4 separate regions of the Homo sapiens genome follow, and all the other regions are linked to region 4. The links come from fine-mapping of genetic effects on gene expression. A gene starts in region 4. Each other region holds a variant in brackets. All regions are shown on one strand. Distances are from middle to middle.

Region 1 (5,144 bases), 50 kb before region 4:
AGCCTCGGGAATGCATGTGCGTCACATCTTTCATATTATGGGTCAGGATAGATTCATTTCTTGCAACATAGTGGAAAAGATATAAGCTGCAGTAATTTGCTCTTTGAATGACCGTCACCCCCAGTATAGGATATGCTTGTATCCCCCCGTCACTCCTCCGCCTGTTTTTTAAACTTTTCCACCACCTGCGTCCAAAAAGAATGTTATAGCGAGTGCTCTTAAATGTTGAACCTGGGTGTTGCTTCCGGGCCAGTCTGCGTGGCTCCATGAAAAGCTCACTGCTGCCCCAGCCGGGCTTCTTAGAGGAGGTCAGTTGTCCTATGTATCATCATTTACTCTGGGAATCCTACTGTGAAATCATGTCTGTATTTTTCTGGAGCAGTTCACATAGAGTAGAATGTGGAATTTCCCGTGAACGTCTCCTTCCTCCCCCGTATCTGCCGCCTGTCACTTCGCCACCGTGCTAGAATACTGTTGTGTTGTAAGATGACTAATTTTAAAAGAACCTGCCCTGAAAAGTTCTTAGAAACGCAGTGAAAGGGAGGAACTTGTCCTTTACCCAGTTTTTCCTTTGTAGGATGGGAAAGTATAAAAAGGCACAGAAGGTTGTCATGGGCTGTTCCTTGGGGGTTTTTATCCTGCTCACCGTGGAGATAAGCCTGCGGCTTGTCTAACCAGCGCAGCGCAAAGGTCTCGATGCCTTTTGGTAACATCCGTCATTGCAGAAGAAAGTTTACACGACGTCAAAAAGTGACGTTCATGCTAAGTGTTTTTCCAGAAATATTGGTTTCATGTTTCTTATTGGCTCTGCCTCCTGTGCTTATATCATCCAAAAACTTTTTAAAAAGGTCCAGAATTCTATTTTAACCTGATGTTGAGCACCTTTAAAATGTTCGTATGTGTGTTGCACTAATTCTAAACTTTGGAGGCATTTTGCTGTGTGAGGCCGATCGCCACTGTAAAGGTCCTAGAGTTGCCTGTTTGTCTCTGGAGATGGAATTAAACCAAATAAAGAGCTTCCACTGGAGGCTTGTATTGACCTTGTAACTATATGTTAATCTCGTGTTAAAATAAAATATAACTTGTGGCTCCGTGTCACGGGACTGTTTTGTTGCATGAAGATATGACCCTAGTTGTGGAAGCAGCCTGGTGTCATTGGAAGCCCCCTGGGCTGGGGAGCTGGCCCCTGGGAGGAGCTGGAGACCTAGATAGCTCTCAGTTCCACCCCCATCCACGGTGGAGGGGGAGGCTCTCAGACCGTGGTGACGTGGAATTCGGGCTGATGTAGTGCGAGGATTGCGAGAGGCTGCTTATGGCCAGGAGTATTTTTTGCATGCACATTCAACTGGTTGCTGCTCTAGCTCTTTGGGGACCTCATTGCTTGGGGCTGGGGCAGGAGGAGGTGGTGAAATGAGGGCACACCTGAGTTTCATTATTTATCTGGTATCACCAGTGCTCAAGCCGGTACTCCTGGTGGCGTGGCTGGAATCACTAGTTTCTGTGAAGCTGCAGGCAGTGCGGAGCTGTTTCACGTGGACAACTCGAAAGGGCAGCAGCCTTGTGCCTGGCACTGGCTGGACATGTGCAGTGGGAGGCCCCGTTTCCACAGCCAGCTTTGAAAATTTCACCCTGGCCTTTTGGGGGAAGATAGGATTGGTTTGTGCCCACACTTCTCTGTGTCCCAAGGGTTTTTTTTTTTTTTTTTTTAGCACTGTTTTAGGAAAACAGTTGTCCAGGAAATGACATATTCGCAGCTACACCAAGTGCAGACCTGGCAGCTCTGCTGATGCCAAGCATCCTCACTTGCGGAGGGCAGGAGGTGAGGGCACCAATATGGGGCCATTGGTAACCTCTAACCACAAGTGCGTGCAGTTGGCTTCAAGGCACCATTGAGAATTGCTGGTTCCCAGTGTGACACAGTGTGGCACAAGGGAACAAGGTGGATCTACTGTTATCCTACCCGAAACCCTCTCCTCTAGGTTGTCAGCAAAAAAGTCCACTTGGGAAGAATATTTCGGGACTGCGCCCAGCCGTCTGTGGGGCGGAGACGGGCTGTCTCCACCTGTGAACCCCCCCATGCCCCACCCGCCCCTGCCGAGCCTTCTCCAAGAGCCGCACCAGCGCTGAGAAGCCTAGAACAGAGCCTGCTGGTTTGGGGCCCCCATTTCCGCGGGTGTGGACATCACAGAGGTCGGGAGCATTGGGGGCGACTAGTTTGTTTTCTGCTGCACTGGGGAAGCCTCTTGAAGTAGGAAGTTCCTGACTCACCGGCTCCGGGGAGGCCACAAGCCTGTGGGGCCGGCTCCTCCAGCGGGTCAGGAAATACCGGCCCGCCCCACGCCCTCCACCCGCCCTGGGCACGCCCGGGCCTGGGAGGCGGCTCCTCCGTCCGCAGAGGTGGTGGGGACCCCTGGCGGGAGCAGACGGCAGAGCGCAGCAGTGGAGGGAGCAAGAAGGGCCCCCTGCG[A/G]TGAGGAACGAGATGGCGGTGGACAGAGGCAGGATTCGGTCGTGCCCCCAGCTTTTTTTAAATTGAAGCGAAAGACTCAGAAATCGTGAAATGTATGGGACAGCCTGGAAGCTCCACTTTGAACTGCTGCTGCCAGAGAAGGATGGTGGGAAAGAGCCACCATCCAGACGGGTTCCCTGGCTCTGCGCACTCGCCTGGGGGAGGCCTCCTTTTCCCTGGTCCTAAAACGCTTTCCCGATAGGGGAGGCAGGGATCTGTGTTGCCAGCGCCCTCTGAGACCCGGGATGAGCGTGTGAAGGCTGCCAGCAGGCACGTGGCAGCCCCTTGGTGTGTCAGCTGCTTCTCCAGGGTCCCACTGAGTGCCCATTCGGCCTTGACTTGAGCACTCCTGCCTCCCGTTAGACCTCCAGATGGTATAGTGACCTCCGCCGGGGACATCTCCGGACCACAAAAGGTACAGAAGAAGCAGAGGAAGGACCCTATCCTTGTCCTCAGAGCTAAGGGGCCGAAAGCTGTGGGAGGAAACACGGACCCACTGTCCCCGTCGGGGATGGGGAAGGCTCCCTTCCTCCCTGCGGCACCTGCTGGACGGACGTCTCAGCCTAGGACAGGGCCGCATCCCTTCAGTCCGCACAGCCCCTGGCTGCCACGCTGTGCCGAGCCCTGCCCTTGAGAACCTGTTTCCAGTTCCAGCTCTCCACAGGCCCCCTCATCTAGGCTGGTCCCGGGTCAAATCGAAGGAAGGAATGGAGGCTGCACCCTGAGAAACCCTGGGACACCCTTCCAGAACATACATTGCCTAGGCTGTCTACTGCTCCTAGCTTTCCCCAAAGGCGTGTGTTTCTTCTGCGCCCAGCTCACCCTTGCTCCGTCCAGGTAGCAGGTGTCTCTCTGTGTAGGTGAAGTTGCAGAAGGGACGAGCCAGAGGGGGCTGTGATTCCGAAACCTCTGCTCACTTCCCCCAAGGCTCTCTGGGGCTCAAAATTAGGTAGCATTAAGACCCTCAGGATAATTTATGTTTGCACTGAATTTAAAACAGAACAAAGGTAGGAACTACACTTTTTGGGTGGCTGCGCCTTGCAAATGTATTCGGATGCAGGTTTGTGAGCAGCGCCATGGCCGACAGAACCACAGGCAGGCGGCAGGTCTCCTGCAGCCTCCCCCACGGTGCAGGGGCGCCTTTCCGGCTCCTCTAAGAAGCGCTGCTGAAGCCACGCCCTGGCTTAGCGCGGAGGAGGAGCCACCGTGGGGCACCGTGGGGAGCGAGGCCTGAGCCCCGCCTCCCCAGTCACCGAGCACTTCCTGTCCCTGCTCAGTAATCAAGCACAGACTTCAGATCTTGGCATCTCAGTCTGAACTCCTTAAAAGCCAGGTATTTTAAAAGAAACGTTTTAAGGCAAATTGGTACCTATTTCCAGCCCACCTTTCTGTAGTGCAAGAACTGTCTCCAAACCTCCTAAATAAATCTTCCAGACAAAACTTTCATTCTCATTTTCCATGTTCAATGTCAATCACGTGGATTGACACATATCTAACCTTCAAATGTAAACAAAGCCAAAAATATTGCTTAGAGATTCCCACATAAAGACAAAGGTTGCTTTTTCCTCTTCCGGGAACGCTGTCTACAGGCACTCAGCATGGCCCAGTTTCCCAAACCGTCATAGGCTTTCCTAGAATACAGCCTCTAACAGCACTAGGCCGGCCCGAACCCCTGGGAAGAGAATCGTTTACCTTTATACCAAGATTGGGAAACTGCCAAAGTCTGCACATGGCATGGGCCTGGGCTGACTCCGAGGGGTTTGTGCTGTGAGACCTAAAGCTCCTATGAGACTGCCCCAAAGCAAAAACATGTCAGCAAGCGGCCAGGCGTGGTGGCTCACGCCTGTAATCCCAGCACTTTGGGAGGCTGAGGCAGAAGGATCACTTGAGCCTAGGAGTTCGAGGCCAGCCTGGGCAACACAGTGAGACCCTGTCTACAAACAAAAAACCCATCAGCAGTGCATCTGGTGCTTCTGTGTGAACGTGTTCCCGACAGGATCAAGTGTGCCTTCCTCATCAAGGAGCAGAAAGTTGCTGGGAAGGTGTTAAGGGCAGGAGCACAGTCAGAAAGCTCAATTTTAAAATGATGTTTTGGCCGGGTGTGGTGGCTCATGCCTGTAATCCCAGCACTTTGGGAGGCTGAGGCAGGCAGATCACAAGGTCATGAGATCGAGACCATCCTAGCTAACACCGTGAAACCCCGTCTCTACTAAAAATAAATAAAATAAAAAATAAAATTAGCCAGGCGTCGTGGCACATGCCTGTAGACCCAGCTACTCCAGAGGCTGAGGCAGGAGAATTGCTTGAACCCCAGGAGGCAGAGGTTGCAGTGAGTTGAGATTATACCACTGCACTCCAGCCTGGGCAACAGAGTGAGACTCTGTCTCAAAAAATAATAATAAAATGAAGCTTTTTTCAGGAAAAAAAAAAAAAAAAAAGGCGGGATGAGGGAACCACATGCAAAGAGCCACCTCTGGGGTCAGGCAAGGTGGCCGACTCCGGAGGGGCCCCAGGCTTTCCATGGAACTGGCAATGTGTCATCTTGGTTCCTTGTCACCGTGTTATCCTTGCATACGCTGAAATGTTTCTGTACGCTCGTATCTGATAGCGGCAGGGAAGCAGAAGCCTAGGGGAGCCA
Region 2 (5,144 bases), 65 kb before region 4:
ATCCATACTCTAATCTTCCCACGTTTCCATTCATATGGCTTTCAAAGTGGTAGAATATTGGCTGATAAGAGTAACCTTTGCCGGGTGGTGCGGTAGCTCACGCCTATAATCCCAGCACTTTAGGAGGCTGAGGCAGGCAGATCACCTAAGGTCAGGAGTTCAAGACCAGCCTGGCCAACGTGGCAAAACCCCATCTCTACTAAAAATACAAAAATTAGGTGGGTGTGGTGGCATGCACCTGTAATCCCAGCTATTCTGGAGGCTGAGGCAGCAGAATTGCTTGAACCCTGGAGGTGAAGGTTGCAGTGAGCCAAGATCGTTGCAGTGAGCCGAGATCGCACCATTGCACTCCAGCCTGGGTGACAAGAGTGAAACTGTCTAAAAAAAAAATGGAGTAACCTTTACAGCATTCTACTCGTTCTTTCTTTCAGAGATGCCATAACAAAAATGAAAGATGTCTACCTAAAGAATCCTCAGATGGGAGACCCAGCCAGTTTGGATCACAAATTAGCAGAAGTCAGCCAAAATATAGAGAAACTGCGAGTAGAGACCCAGAAATTTGAGGTATGAAACTTCTGTTGTGGAAAGCTTTGTTGGAAACGAAGAACAGGTGTTCCTCGGTGTAGAATGGTGTGGGGCCCTGACGATCCTCTCACTGGGAGGTACACAGTGGGAATGGCAGGCTGTTTCAGGAGTTATGGTCAAAGGAAAAATACACTCTTCGCCGTTGAACATTCTCCTACTCATCATAGCCTATCTTAATCGTGGCTGTAAAACCTGACAATGTTTAATGTTGTATCTGTATACGGTGCGGGGTTGGCGGGGTTGTTTTTTAATTTTAGAGACAGGATTTTGCTTTGTTGCCCAGGCTGGAGTACAGTGGCATGCTTGTAGCTCACTGCAGCCTTGATCTCCTTGGCTCAGCCTTTGAGGAGCTGGGATTACAGGCACATGCCACCATACCTGGCTAACTTTTATTTTTCAATTTTTTATTTGTTTTAGAGTTGAGGTCTTGCTCTGTTGCACAGACTGGTCTTGAACTCCTGGCCTTAAGCCATCCTCCCACCTTGGCCTCCCAGAGTGCTGGGATTACAGCTGTGAGCCACTGTGAGCCACTGTGCCTGGCCAGTATTTTTTGTACTTTAAGTTATTCTGCTTCATCTCATGGTAATAAAATTGGGAGTATAGAGCGATCCGTTATCCCAGTGAATCAAAGAAGCAATGAAAAAAATCCCCTGAAATATACAATTGTTCTCTCAGCAGGCCCATTATGGAAAGGGTGTGTGTGAGAACCAGCAGCAAACACAAAGGAGAAACAAGCAGGAAACATAAATAATCAAAGCTTGAGGGAGGGAGAGGAGCACTCAAAAGCTGTCAACAAAAGCCTCCTGAACCCACTCTCCCTACCACGTTTAAAGACTACAGAGCATGGAAAAATACATTAGCAACCGATTCTACCAGTCAGAATAGATTGTTTCCAGCAATGAAGGGTCAACTATGGCTTTTTTCATTCTTTTTTTTGAGATGAAGTCTCGCCCTGTTGCCCAGGCTGGAGTGTAGTAGCGTGATCTCACCTCAGTGTGACCTCCACTTCCCAGGTTCAAGTGATTCTCCTGCCTCAGCCTCCTGAGTAGCTGGGACTACAGGTGTGTACCACCACACCCGGCTACTTTTTGTATTTTTGGTAGAGACAGGGTTTTGCCATGTTGGCCAGGCTGGTCTCGAACTCCTGACCTCAGATGCTCCACCCACCTTGGCTTCCCAAAGTGCTGGGATTACAGGCGTGAGCCACCACACCTGGCCAGCTTTTTCCATTCTTTTCAGAATCCATCATTAATGTTCATTTGAGCATTTAGAACTTAGAACGGTCCTTTTCTTATTATTATTCTTTTTTTTGAGACAGAGTCTCGCTCTGTCACCCAAGCTGGAGTGCAGTGGTGCAGTCTCGACTCACTGTAACCTCCACCTCCTGAGTTCCAGTGATTCTCGTGCCTCAGCCTCCCGAGTAGCTGGGACTACAGGCATGTGCCACCATGCCCAGCTAATTTTTGTATTTTTAATGGAGATGGAGTTTCACCATGTTGGCCAGGCTGGTCTCGAACTCCTGACCTCAGGTGATCTGCCCACCTCTCCCAAAGTGCTGGGATTACAGGCGCTCACCACCACCCCCAGCTAATTTTTGTACTCTTAGTAGAGACAGCGTTTCACCATGTTGGCCAGGCTGGTCTGAAACTCCCAACCTGAAGTGATTCACCCACCTCGGCCTCCCAAAGTGCTGGGATTACAGGTGTGGCCACCGCGCCCGGCCTTCTCGTCATTTTTATTCCTTTGACTTGTTTATACTGTTTCAAATGCTGAAGGTCATTTTATCTACTTTAATTTTTAAGTACAAGTTTCATTTCTATCAAAAAAAAAAGTTACACTCCTAAAAAATAGGAAGTGTGGCTTTCAAACTGAGTCACTGCTTTAAGCATGGCTGTACCTTCAGGTATCACAGGGCGACCTCATGGTCAAGAAGGAACTAGAAGTGACTTATCCAAGACTGCACTGCTGCTTAAAAGCCCAAGGGGATAGCATAGTCCAGTGTGCTTTCTGCCCCATCGTGGGCAACCACATAAATATGAGTTTGTTTCTATGTCTCCAACTTCGGGTGAAATGGAAGCAACCGTCCTTCAGTACATTTGAACAGTCGAAGGCAGAAAACGTGGCCATTCTGCCCCCACGTGGACTTCCTCACATTGGGTTAAATGGCCAAGAGTAGCCCCTGAGTTTGGGACCTTAGGATGCTCCGGGCTGGCCCTCAGATGGCCTTTGGGACCTTAGGACACTCTGGGCTGACCCTCAGATGGCCTTAGGTTGGAGTCTCTCATTGCTTTTGTCTCCAGGCCTGGCTGGCTGAGGTTGAAGGCCGGCTCCCAGCACGCAGCGAGCAGGCGCGCCGGCAGAGCGGACTGTACGACAGCCAGAACCCACCCACAGTCAACAACTG[C/T]GCCCAGGACCGTGAGAGGTACAGTATCTGCACAGCGCCTGCCTCTGGCAAGGGAGCCTGTTGGCTTTGTATTTATTTCTAAATTTTGGAATCTGGAATGACCATAAGGCACTTGTTCAATGCCAAAATGTCTGTTGCGATTGACCTGTCACTTTTTCCATGATGCAGATTTATAATTCCACATGGGATGGGTGATCTGAGCGTGCGATGATTTACCATGGCCTCAGTTACAGCACTCGCTGAGGGGCGGGGTTGCAAGTGCTCTCCAGTCGCAGGGACTCAATCTGAGTCCTCCCTGGGGTCAGTCGCTTTAGTTGCTTTGTGTTTTCCTTTCTTGAGCAGCCCAGATGGCAGTTACACAGAGGAGCAGAGTCAGGAGAGTGAGATGAAGGTGCTGGCCACGGATTTTGACGACGAGTTTGATGATGAGGAGCCCCTCCCTGCCATAGGGACGTGCAAAGCTCTCTACACATTTGAAGGTGACATTTCATGTCTGCTGGATTCCCCTGCCTTTTATAAACCATAATATCTGAGTTACTCTTCTTTCACTTTTCCTTCCTTCCTTCCTTCTGATCATTTTTATTCCTTTGTCCTTCCTTCCTTCCTTCCTACCTTCCCTTCCCCTTCCCCTTCCCCTTCCCCTTCCTTCCTTCCCTTCCCTTCCCTCCCTTCCCTTCCTTCCCTTCCTTCCCTTCCTTCCTTCCTTCCTTTTTTTCATACAGGGTCTCGCTCTCTTGCCCAAGTTAGAGTGCAGTGGTGCAATCATGGCTCACTGCAGCCTTGACCTCCTGGGCTCAAGTGATCCTCCAACCTCAGCCTCCTGAGTAGCTGGGACTACAGGCAAGCACCACCATGTCCGGCTCATTTTTGTACTTTTGTACTTTTTGTACTTTTCAGTAGAGACAGGGTCTCACTATGTTGCCCAGGCTGGTGTTGAACTCCTGGATTCAAGCAGTACTCCTGCCTCAGCCTCCCAAAGTGCTGTGATCACAGGTGTGAGCCACTGTGCCTAGCCACACTCTTCTCTTTCTGTGACCAGAACTTTCTTTAGAAGCCTTCCAGATCTGGCCGGGCATGGTGGCTCACACCTGTAATCCTAGAACTTTGGGAGGCTGAGGCGGGCAGGTCACTTGAGGCCAGGAGTTCAAGACCAGCCTCGCCAACATGGTGAAATCCCATCTCTACTAAAAATACAAAAACTGGCTGGGCATGCTGGCAGGCGCCTGTAATCCCAGCTGCTCGGGAGGCTGAGGCACGAGAATCACTTGAACCCGGGAGGCGGAGGTTGCAGTGAGCTGAGATAGCGCCACTGTACTCCAGCCTGGGTGACAGAACGAGACTCTGTCTCAAAAAAAAAAAAAAAGCTGCAGCAGCAGCCTTCCAGATCCTTCTCTACTATGCTTTTATCCTACTCATGGTATGATTATTATTTGGTTGTATATTTTGACTTTTGGTTCGTATAACTTAACAGCTTCCAGAGAGCTTGCTTCACTGCAGCAGACGATAGGGAGGATGATCATTTCATCCATTCATTTAATATCTAGTATCTATAGCGCTCCTGTCTTGTAAAGGCCCATGAAGTGGGGGGATGCAGGTCGTATGATATGGCACCTGCCCAGAGGGAAATCAGGCAGACACACTTAAGGAGCAAGCAGCGGCTGGGTGCAGTGGCTCACGCCTGTAATCCCAGCACTTTGGGAGGCCGAGGCAGGCGGATCGTGAGGTCAGGAGATCGAGACCATCCTGGCCAACATGGTGAAACCCCATCTCTACTAAAAATACAAAAATCAGCTAAGCGTGGTAGCGCATGCCTGTAATTCCAGCTACTTGGGAGGCTGAAGCAGGAGACTCACTTAAACCAGGAGTCGGAGGTGGCAGTGAGCCGAGGTCGTGCCACTTTACTCCAGCCTGGCAACAGAGCAAGACTCCCTCTCAAAAAAAAAAAGCAGGCAGTTTGCAGTGTTTGCCAGAAGAGGGATACAGAGGAACGGGGAGGACAGGGGAGAATGAGGTCGCTTCCTTAAGGAAGTTTGGAGAACTTGCCATGGCATGGGGGGTGTGGCCAGAAATGGGTGTGGTGTGGCTGGAGCTTAGATGTCTTAAGTCCTAATAGTGAAATGTGGCACTAAAGAGTGGGAAGTGCCAATGGGGGCGA
Region 3 (5,144 bases), 31 kb before region 4:
TCATGCCTCTGTGTCATCCTCTGCAAAACGTGGCTCCCACACTGGTGTCTCAGGGGTGTACCTGAGAGGAGCCCATAGCCCGGCCCTCCGCCACAGGGGGCCATGAGAAAGGCAGCTACGGGCGTAATCTGTACTCCCAGCCTCAAGCTGACCCACCCTCCCGTGCCCCCCGAACCTTTCTTGAGCACGTACGACGGTGCCATCCTCACGGGGCTTGCACGAGGGGGGCTGCTAGACAGCTTGGCATGGCCCTCGTGGTGGTGGACGGGGCTGCAGGGGCGAGAGGAGCTGCGTAGGTGAGCATCATTGTCCGGCTCTGGGGGCAGAGAGGGTACCATGCTGGGCCAGGGCAGCCAGGCCAGCTCCACGAGTGGGCAGGAAGATGACCTGCCAGCCCCTCCTAAAGGGACGAAAGCCTGACCCTAATGTGTCTCCTCTGTCATGTGCCCACTCCTGGCCCCAGCACACAGGCCGGAGCAGACCTGTCCAATCCATGTCCGGCTGGAAGGCTCAGGGCTCTGGGAGAGGGCTCTGAATTGGGCTCCAGCATTATGAGCTAGGGGACCCTGGGCACATCACTGAGCCCCCCCGGAGGCTGACTTCCCCACTGTCATTCGGGTCTAGTGAAGAACCCGTCCCCCGGGGGCTACTGCAGGTCGGCGCTCAGCACCCGGTAGGTACTGGGCCATAGGCTGAGGTTCCTCCCGCAGTCCCCGGCCAGCTGATACCTGGCGTCCGGCAGGGGCTGGAGGACCGTGGTGACGGGGGCTGGGCCTCCGCGGGCTGGTCGTCAAGGGCAGCCATGGCAGTGTCCACATCAGCGTCCTCGTCCACTTGCTCCGAGTTTGTACGCTGCTGGCCCCAGGAGAACTTGCGGTCCTTCATCCGCTCCTTCTCAGAGATGGCTCGGCCCGCCTCATCTGGGATCAGCAGCTCCGTCTCGGCCTGCGAGCTGCCCCCGCCACGCCCCTGCCCGTCACCCTCACCCCGGTCACTGCTCGAGTCACAGGACAAGAACTCATCTTCTGATGGGCTCCGGTCACCCTCCCGTTTCTCATCCGTGTCACTCGAATCTGAGTCCCGAGCCTCCGTCAGCGCCACCGTGGCCACCACCGGCTCCTTGAGCTCCTCGTGCAGCTGGTCCATCAGGCAGCGAAGGAACTCTTGGGTGTCCTAGAACCAGGGGCTGCATCAACAGGGCTCCCCTGGAGGCAGGAGGAACCAGTCTCCAGCGCCCTGTGGCTGATGAGAGCGCCAGCCTCCATCTAGGAGGACCTCATGGGCGCCCCCTGCAGAAGAGTTGCTCACCCCCACAGCGGCCTCCCATGGCAGTCTGTCCTAACCCCATTCTTCTGAGGATAACAGTGAGGACTGGAGAGGCTAAAGGACACCTACCAGGACACACAGCTAGAAAGTGTCAGAGCCAGGTATGCACCTGGGTCCATGCAACTCCCCGGCTCCGGCTCTGAATCTCCTGCCTCTGCTGCAAGCTCAGCACGGGAGGGACAGAGAGGCAGTACCACATTAAGCCCGAGCCACCTTTCTCCCTACAGATGAGACCAGTGGAGGTGGGCAGGGGGGTGGCGGAAGGATGAGGGAGTGTGATGCCAAAAGAGGACTCACCCGAGTCCTGCCCCAAGCCACGCTACCCACAGGCCAGACTGCCTGCATGCTCTACCCTTCCTCTGGCTCCCCCTGCTCCCTCAGTCCCTGTGCCAGCCCCCACATACCCTCACTGCCTGCTCTCACCTTCCCACAGACCTGGTCATGACTCAGTCTAAGCTGCCCCTGCAGGCTGCCTGGGTCTCAAATCCCAGCAATGACCATTTTATCCTGACCACTCTGTGACTGGGCCACCAGCACAGCAGGAAGCCAAGGCAGCAGGGGCTCGGGCAGAGGCGCCCAGTGAGCCCCACTGAGATCTGTGTGCTCACACAGGGGGTGCACTGGGAGGTCAGAACGTGGTGGTGGCAGCAGACCCCAGCAGCTAGCGGGTGCTCGGGTGGTGCTGGGCATTGGAGAAGGACTTGGGTTCCGAGCCCAAATCAGCCCCAGCAGTCCCTGACCTGGTTGTTAGAAGCAGCCCTCAGCCCAGGCTCTGATCCCCAGGAGGCAGGGGTCACGTAGCAGCCAGAGCCAGCCTCATGTCACACATCTGGGAAGAGGATCCCGGCTCTCTCCACTCATGTGCAGGGAAGGGAGGGCTCAGGAGGGACTCCCCAAGGCAAAGTGTCAGGCTCCAAGATCAGAGGAATGAACCACGAGGTTACATTGCATCAGGGAGGGGACACGTGTCCTGTGGCAGGCACGATCAAAGGCCCTTTCAAGAAGAGGCTTTCAATCTGCCATCTACTTCTCTTTCTGGTTCTTCCTTTCAACAAAAGTACTATGTGTTCCTTGCCAAAATCTCAATCCATGCAGAAGCACAAAAGAGTCTTTTGGCCCTTAAGAGGCGCCCGCAGCTGCGTCTACAGTTCAGCCTCAGAAGTGTCCCCACACGATATCCTAAAACCACAGAAAGGGATGCTTCTGCCGGAGCCCAGATGGAGTCCTGCCGCAGCGCATGGCCCTCCGTAACGGCATCCTGACCCAGAGCTGAAAGCCGGCAGGGCGCCTTGCACACAGTCAGGGTGGTGCTGTGCTGAGGGATGGGCTCAGGTAGGCCTGAATGCCATCTCTGCCAGGATGTGCTGTGTGACCTGGGTGAGGGGTAGAACCTCTCTGAGCCTCAGCTCTTTACCTGTAACGTGTGGGTGACAACAGTGCCCACTTTGTGAGACTTCTATGAGGACTAAGTTGTGACCACTTAAATGGTGCTCAGTGAATTTTAGTCATTGTGCATGTTATCACTCCCCAAAAAGAGAGGTGTCCAGGCAGTGCTGAGCTTCTCAAGCAGGAGCCAAAGGCCCAGCAGACTTCATCCTGGGACGGGACAGCAGGCAGGGGGTAGAGGGCGGAAGTTGTCCCCACATGACTGCCACTCCGTCCATGGTGCTCATTTCAGGCAGCACAAGAGGTGACCCAGCCAGGTCCAGCTCTGCCTGCAGGCCTGGCATGAAAGCCCAGGCTGTGGGCCATCTGGGGCAGGAGGCTGGAGGGCAGGAGCCATCAGCCCGGGGCTGAGGTGTACGCGTGGCTGCACTCTGTCTTGGTCTCATTATTTTATAAAATAGAAAAATGTGATTGGTTTCAAAA[G/C]GGTTCTCTAGATTTAAAAAAAATTTTTAATCAAACTTTTTACTTTAATAAAAGTGAAATTTTGCCTGTGGTTTGGGGAAATGAAACCCTGTGTCATTTTGGGTGCAACGCGGAGGCCCTGCAGCAAGGTTGCCTGGGTTCAAATCTCCCCTCCGCCGGGTGCAGTGGCTCATGCCTATAATCACAGCACTTTCGGAGCCTGAGGTGGGACGACTGCTTGAGCCCGGGAGGTCGAGGGTGCAGTAAGCCATGACTGCACCACTGCACTCCAGCCTGGGTGACAGAGTGAGACCCTGTACCCACCCTCCCCCACAAAAAAAAGAATTCCCCTCCACCATTTACTAGCTGTGTGGCCTGTGCAAGTGGCTCGGCCCCTGAACCTCAGTCTGTCCATCTGTGAAGTGGGGTTAAATGTCAGCAGGTTGCTGGGAGGCTCCACTGTCCTCACACGTGTGAAGGGCTTAGGAGTGAGAGCCTGGTCCGTGAGACCTGCCAACCAGTGCTCAGCTGCCATTGCGATTTTCCACTCTGGTTTTGGCGTCAAAGTCAGGCCTGGTGGGTCATGGCCTTGGGTGTCCCCTGGGCAGCTCAGATGGCTTACCTGCTGGGCATAGCCTCGGAACATTGGGTTGACCAACTTGATCCCATGAGACAGACTGGTGGGGACCACGTAGCTTGGCCTGTAGGAAGCCCAAACCCATTAGTCCAGGTAGCCTGCCTTGAGCTGCTCATTCCCGAGAGAAGCAGGCAGCCAGCCCGTCAGGCTGGATCAGAGTGTGGCGTTTCCTGACATTTGGGGAGGGGCCTACTCAGCCAGGAGCCCCAAGAGGCTCACACATCTCTACAGACAAGAAGAAAATGTCAAGTCATAGCTGCCTCAATTAAGCAAAGAGCTCAAATAAAATAGCATCATTTCCTTCTGGTGCACAACAAACTCGCCTAAACATGATTTGTTTTCATTCTGAAACACTTACTGTGGTTTTCTCATTTCAAAAGTAAGACATGTTCATTATTGACAAATCTAAAATTTCAGAAAAGTACAAGAGAAAAACACCACCACCAATGGCACCAGATACTTACCATTAGATTTCTGGTTCTGTGAAACTACAGATGCATATACAAAAATACATACAGATACACATTTAAACTTGGCTTCTTACACAAGCGGAATTATATTGTACCATGCTGGGTTTTTTTTTTTTTTTTTTTGGGACAGAGTCTTGCTCTGTTTCCCAGGCTAGAGTGCAGTGGCATGATCTTGGCTTGCTGCAACCTCCGCCTCCCGAGTTCAAGTGATTCTCCTGTCTCAGCCTCCCAAAGTGCTGGGAATACAGGTGCGCGCCACCATGCCCAGCTAATTTTTGTATTTTTAGTAGAGACGGGGTTTCACCACATTGGCCAGGCTGGTCTCGAACTCCTGACCTTGCGATCCACCCGCCTCGGCCTCCCAAAGTACTGGGATTACAGGAGTGAGCCACTGCACACAGACTTTTTTTTTTTTTTTTTTTTTTTTGAGACAGGGTCTCACTCTGTCGCCCAGGCTGAAGTGCAATGGCATGATCAAGCTCACTGCAGCCTGCCTCAACTTCCTGGACTCAAGCGATCCTCCCACCTCAGCCTCCTGAGTAGCTGGGACCACAAGTGCTCACACCACACTCAGCTAATTTTGTAGTTTTTGTAGAGGCGGGGTCTTGCTGTGTTGTCCAGGCCGGTCTCAAACTCCTAGGCTCAAATGATTCTCCTGCCTCGGCCTCCCAAAGTGCTGGATTTACAGGTGTCAGTGACTGCATCTGGCCCCACGCTGGTTTTTAATCTGCTTCTACATTTAATACATATTTCTCCCATGCTGGTTTGTTTTGTTTTTGTTTTTTTTTTTTTGAGACAGAGTCTCGCTTTGTCAACAGGCTGGAGTGCAGTGGTGCGATCTCGGCTCACTGCCACCTCCGCCT
Region 4 (5,144 bases):
GGCTCTCCTGAAATTTCTATTTATTGAGCCATGACTGCTCACTGGAGCCAAAGAGCACTGCCACTTTCCTGCCTTTAAATATTTGTTGTTAGCCGGGCACAGTGGCTCACACCTGTAATCCCAGCACTTTGGGAGGCTGAGGCGGGCGGATCACTCAAGGTTAGGAATTTGAGACCAGCCTGGCCAACATGGTGAAACCCCGTCTCTACTAAAAATACATAAATTAGCCAGGTGTGGTGGTGGGCGCCTGTAATCCCAGCTACTCAGGAGTCTGAGGCAGGAGAATCACTTGAACCTGGGAGGCGGAGGTTGGAGTGAGCCAAGATCGCACCACTGCACTCCAGCCTAGGCAACTGAGTGAGACTCCGTCTCAAAAAAAAAAAAAAAAATTGTTGTCAACGTGCATGGCTTCTCCAAGTTTCCTCCTTCATGCTAATGAGAACCAGTTGGATACTGTTTGTCTTGCTAAGGTAAAAGGCTAAGAACAGCCTGGCTCTTTCATCACTGTTAAATACCCCACAATCAGGACTTGAGTTCAGGGTGTACACTCTAAATAAAAGCTTTTGTAAAATAAAGTTCAAGCTTACAGACCCCTAAAACCACCAGGCAGTGACTGGAACCCAAGGCCTATCATTCAATCCACTGCTTTATCTGTCATGTTTCCAACCAAATCCCAAACCAGAATGCGCTAATTTTAATTTGCAACTCAACCTTGCCACCCTCCCGGAGGTGATTCCCTTGTTTTGCTCTATTTGTTTCTTTTCCACAGCACTTACCATCTTCTAACACACTTTACATACTTTACTGTGAGAACATACACTCAACTAATCAGGGATCTTTTGTCTCTTTTGCTGACTTATTTCAAGCACTTAGAACAGTGCCTGCTCATATAGTAAATGCTAAGAATCTGTTGAATACATTGATCCAATAAATACATTTATTGGATGCCGACTATAGCTGGGCTGTGAACTGTATCACGTTGCTGGATCCCAAATCCAATCGGACATGAATGCTCCCTGAACCCTGAAACAAGCCAACATTTCATCTGGCTCCAGAAAGGAGCTAGGAAACCAACCAAAACCTAGGTTGAATCTGTACATTTTCTTAAAACAACTGAACTCCCAAACAAGACTAAGACCTTGGATTCATCTTTGAACTGCATAGAACCTGTATTTCTCGGAGGGTCCTTTTGAGAGACAGTCTCATCCTACGCTTAAAAGGGCCCAGTGAGACTTGGGCTGCAGTCTCTTGGCAAAGCCACTTACTGCCAGATTCATAGCTGCCACTTTTTCAGCATTCCTTTTGCTAAAGAGCACTCAATTAGATCTGCCACAGCACAGGTGGTGGTTATCACTGGGTCCTCTGGCCTCATGGAGCAAGGGTGGGAGCAGCTCATCTGTACCCTGGGACTTCAGCTGAGGAGGAGGGTCCAGAAATGCCCCTGGCCTTCTTGCCCTTTCCTTAGTAGTGTCCAGTACCCCCTGGTGGATGGGCTGCTTGATGGGCAGATTCAGAGCCACCTCTGAGAGCGTGAGAGCTGCAGACGTTGACCCCCTGGACTCCTGCAGCAATTCCCAAGGAGCCTCTCCATCATCTGACAGGGACTCCGTATCCAGTGAGTGCACGTGCATCTGGGTTTGGCTGAACCAGTCTGCAGAGGGCAAGACTTTGAGACTTTAATATATGGCTTTTGACCAAAGATAAAACGCTGGTGCAAGAAGTCCCGAGTCTACTATTTTTTCCAGCCCAAGGAAGAGAAGAACAATCTCAGTGGAGACTGTTCCAGAGAAAACGTAAGGCATTCTAGAAATGCTGCCCTGCTTCGGAATGGTCTTCCAGAAAGGGGAACCCCAGACAGCCCCCATCGGCCCCTCCCCCTAGCCAATGAGATGTAACAGCAGCTGCAGCAGCAGCAAACATCTACTGCACTCCTACCGTGCCAGGCCCTGTGCAAACCGTGCGGCAGAGACTGACCTGCAACCAATTCCTGTTCCACCTCCTAGCTGGGTAACTTGAGGCGTGCACTGCCCCTCGGAGACTCCGCATTCTCATTTGTAAAACGAAAAACAATCTACCTCAAAGGATTGCTGGGAGAATTCAATGAGATGATGCTTTGCCCAGGGCCTGCCACATAGTAACTGCTTAATAAGAGGTAGTTCTCAAAGTAAGGGATGACACTGAGAAAAGGAAAACTACTGTTACTTAAGGGGTTCTTAAAAGTCCTAGAAGCCATTATTTATGCATTTAGGTATTTCCTAAGCGTTTGCTGATACCAGTTTTTCAAATAAACTTTATCCTCACAGCATCTTCGGGGTGGAAGGGGCAGAGGGTAGAGCGACAGACCTGCCGAAGGAGGAAAACCAGACCCGTGAAGGTCCAGGGGGGTGGCCGGCAAGCACCGAGGAGGAGTCCCCCGGCTCAAACCCTCTTGCGTGGCTTCAAAACATCAGACGCGCCTCTCCTCGCGGAGAAGCTGGGGGCCATTATTTGTGAGGCAGTCGGCGCTGGGACTCTAAGTCAGCACCGCAGAGAAGTGGTCATCTTTTGTTCCGAAAGAAAAAAACGCACGTCAGGGCTCAGAGCCCGAGGAAAGAAAAGTCAGCGCCCGAGACGCGAGACGCCACGCGGATGCTTTCAACGCTAGGTCAGGCCCCGGCAGAAATGAGAGGGGGGCGGCCCCGGTTCTGGAGAAGCCACGAGCCCCCAGGGAGCTCAGAGTGGGGTGGTGCTGGGGCCCAGAGGCCCCCCTGGGCGCCGACCGGAGGAGGGGAGAGGGGCGGCGGCGGCCGGGGGGGTCCCGGGCTCCGCTCACCGGGCCGCTGCGTCTGGCGTACCTGGCGAAGCCAGGCCCTGTCAGCCCGGAGCCGGGCTGGGGTCGCCAATGCTCAGAGGCCCGGCCCACAGAAGCAGCCGGTGGCGGCCCGGAACTCACCTGCACTCGCAACTGCGCCGCCGCCGCCTGTCAGTCAAGCGCGCCCCCTCTGAGGCGACGCGCAGGGTTGTGGGGCCGTCTGGCGACGCCCCACCTCCTTCCCTCTGCCGTCCAATCGGAAGAGGCTGACGCCAGGAGAGGGGGCGTGGCCACGCGGACTGTGCGTGCCGGGGGCGGGGCCAGACGGGGCAGGCGCTCTGACCGCTCTGCCGCGCGCCGGAAGCAGCCTGGGCCGCTGCGCAGAGGCGCGGCGGCTGTACAACTCGGCCGTTGTCACCATGCCGGTCGTCCGGAAGATTTTCCGTCGCCGCCGGGGCGACTCGGAGTCAGAGGAAGATGAGCAGGACTCAGAGGAGGTTCGGTGCGTTTGGGGCGGGGCTCCCATAGGCTTGGTAAAGATAGACTTGTTTGGGGGACTCACCACCGGCTCGGCGCTTCGCTGACATTGTTAACTGTGAGCTCGGGTGGTGGTTCCTTCTGCGGACGCAGAAATTGAGGCTCAAGGGGTGAGGCCACCGCCCCAAGCTCGAACGGTTGAGAGAGATGCCTCCGGGATGCGCAGTGGCTCTGACTCCCGGTGGGTCTAGGCACAAGGTCGTCCTCTGGACCACTGTGCTGGTGGCTCAGTAGCTGGGCTGGGATGCCCTCGAAGGTGCCTTATTGGCTCTGTTAGCTTTGGATTCCGCGGGGAATCACTCAGCTTATGCATTGCTGCTTCTTCTTCTTTTTAAAGATTAAAACTGGAAGAGACCAGAGAGGTACAGAACTTGAGGAAGAGGCCCAACGGGGTGAGGTGGGTACCACGCGGGGAGGAGGAGGAGGCGGCGGGGACGACAGACACATCCGCGTCCGGGTCGCTGTCACAAATATCTCCTCAGACGTAGATTTTTCTCTTGACACACTGTACACCTTCCACTGCCCAACTTGGAGAACAGCGTTCTTTGCAAATGTTTAACCAGGACATGCCCTGAGCTGTGTCGTCTCGGGGTGTGCTCCAGAGATACAGAAACAGATCACTAACTCGCGTTTTTTATTAAAACCAATTAATTGTGAAATGCATATCGATCGTTAAGAGTTTGTATAATTTAGAAAAGTATAGTCAAGACGATAAAAAGCACCCATAATTCTCCCATCCGGAAATGATCAGTGTTAACATTTTTTTTCCTTGCAGAGCCACCCAAGAATGCACTGGTATTAATATTGAATACTCTTTCCAATCTGTTTTTTTTCGTCTCTCTCTCTCAGATTGTGAACAACTTTCTATGTACTTTTATTCCCTGTTCTTTTCAACTCATTATGACATTGTGGGCATTCACCCATATTGTGGAATATTTTTCAGAAAGCCTTAATGGCTGCATAATATTCCACCAGATGTGTGTATTGTAATTTGTTAACAAATCCCCTATTTTGGGACATGTAGGTGATTTTGTAAATTTTTACTATCAAATAAGGCTGCAGTGGATATTCTCTTAAATTTATCTTTAGCTGCACTTTCCATGATGAGAATATCTTAGAAATGAGATTTCCAGGCCAAGATAATGCCAAATGGCTTTACAGGAAAGTGGCAAAGTGTACCACTTCACCACCAGCGCACCCTTCTTCCAGCATCTGCGGTGCTCGTTGAGCCCTGTCTTATGCTTATAGGCTTTTCCAGCCGGCTTGCCTACCCACCCCTCAAATCCCACCCTTGCACTAATGTTGCAATCCGCATACCTGAGAGGGTTCCTCCTTATCTCTGAATTATGCCATTTCTCTCTCTCCCCCTCTCTTTTTTTTTTGGTTTTGCTCAGTGCTGTGGCCTTGCTGGTGGGAGAGAAGGTACAAGAGGAGACCACTCTAGTGGTAAGTTATGGGGTCTTCCCTGAGTAGTTATGGCAGCCCTCCCTGCAGTGCTCTTCAGTGAGTGAGCGTGCTTCACAAAAAAAAAAATTCCACTACCATGTATTTAGATGCTTCCTCTTAACTGTGTTTGCTTTCTGCAGGATGATCCCTTTCAGATGAAGACAGGTGGTATGGTGGATATGAAGAAACTGAAGGAAAGGGGCAAAGATAAGTAAGTTCAGGACAAGCTTAGATGCAAATTCACCTTTAGCGGCTGCCTGGGTCTAGGTTCCCTCAGAGAGCTGGGGCCTGTAGCAGCAGCATTAGTAGGACATCTTGAAGCAGGTTTTGTGCTTTGCAAAGGGTGTGTTATTTAAAAACAAAGAAAGCA

Evidence for each region.
Region 1: its variant is fine-mapped to the expression of USP20 in whole blood (TOPMed, PIP above 0.99).
Region 2: its variant is fine-mapped to the expression of USP20 in thyroid (GTEx, PIP 0.97).
Region 3: its variant is fine-mapped to the expression of USP20 in lung (TOPMed, PIP above 0.99).

Annotation. Positions count from the first base shown.
Region 1 is chr9:129,883,130-129,888,273 of GRCh38, reverse strand. FNBP1 (formin binding protein 1) reads left to right here. Exons shown (of 17, transcript NM_015033.3): 17 at 1-1,087. Among named protein-coding and RNA genes, the nearest start is that of MIR6855, 16 kb to the right of the region's middle. RefSeq lists enhancers at 1-78, 2,689-2,738, 2,789-3,470, 3,269-3,578, 3,570-3,864 and a silencer at 2,249-2,498. The variant A/G (reference allele first, on the strand shown) is at 2,468.
Region 2 is chr9:129,898,289-129,903,432 of GRCh38, reverse strand. It overlaps FNBP1 (formin binding protein 1), which reads left to right. Exons shown (of 17, transcript NM_015033.3): 13 at 432-564; 14 at 2,886-3,007; 15 at 3,332-3,468. Among named protein-coding and RNA genes, the nearest start is that of MIR6855, 31 kb to the right of the region's middle. RefSeq lists an enhancer at 2,651-2,770. The variant C/T (reference allele first, on the strand shown) is at 2,990.
Region 3 is chr9:129,864,034-129,869,177 of GRCh38, reverse strand. It overlaps USP20 (ubiquitin specific peptidase 20), which reads right to left. Exons shown (of 26, transcript NM_001110303.4): 10 at 3,797-3,875; 11 at 729-1,173; 12 at 176-316. Among named protein-coding and RNA genes, the nearest start is that of MIR6855, 3.0 kb to the left of the region's middle. RefSeq lists a silencer at 3,954-4,248. The variant G/C (reference allele first, on the strand shown) is at 3,196.
Region 4 is chr9:129,833,288-129,838,431 of GRCh38, reverse strand. USP20 (ubiquitin specific peptidase 20) reads right to left here and starts at 2,974. Exons shown (of 26, transcript NM_001110303.4): 1 at 2,933-2,974. C9orf78 (chromosome 9 open reading frame 78) reads left to right here and starts at 3,157. Exons shown (of 9, transcript NM_016520.3): 1 at 3,157-3,293; 2 at 3,666-3,725; 3 at 4,723-4,774; 4 at 4,915-4,985. The coding sequence starts at 3,211. RefSeq lists an enhancer at 2,224-2,724 and silencers at 2,696-2,845, 2,876-3,225.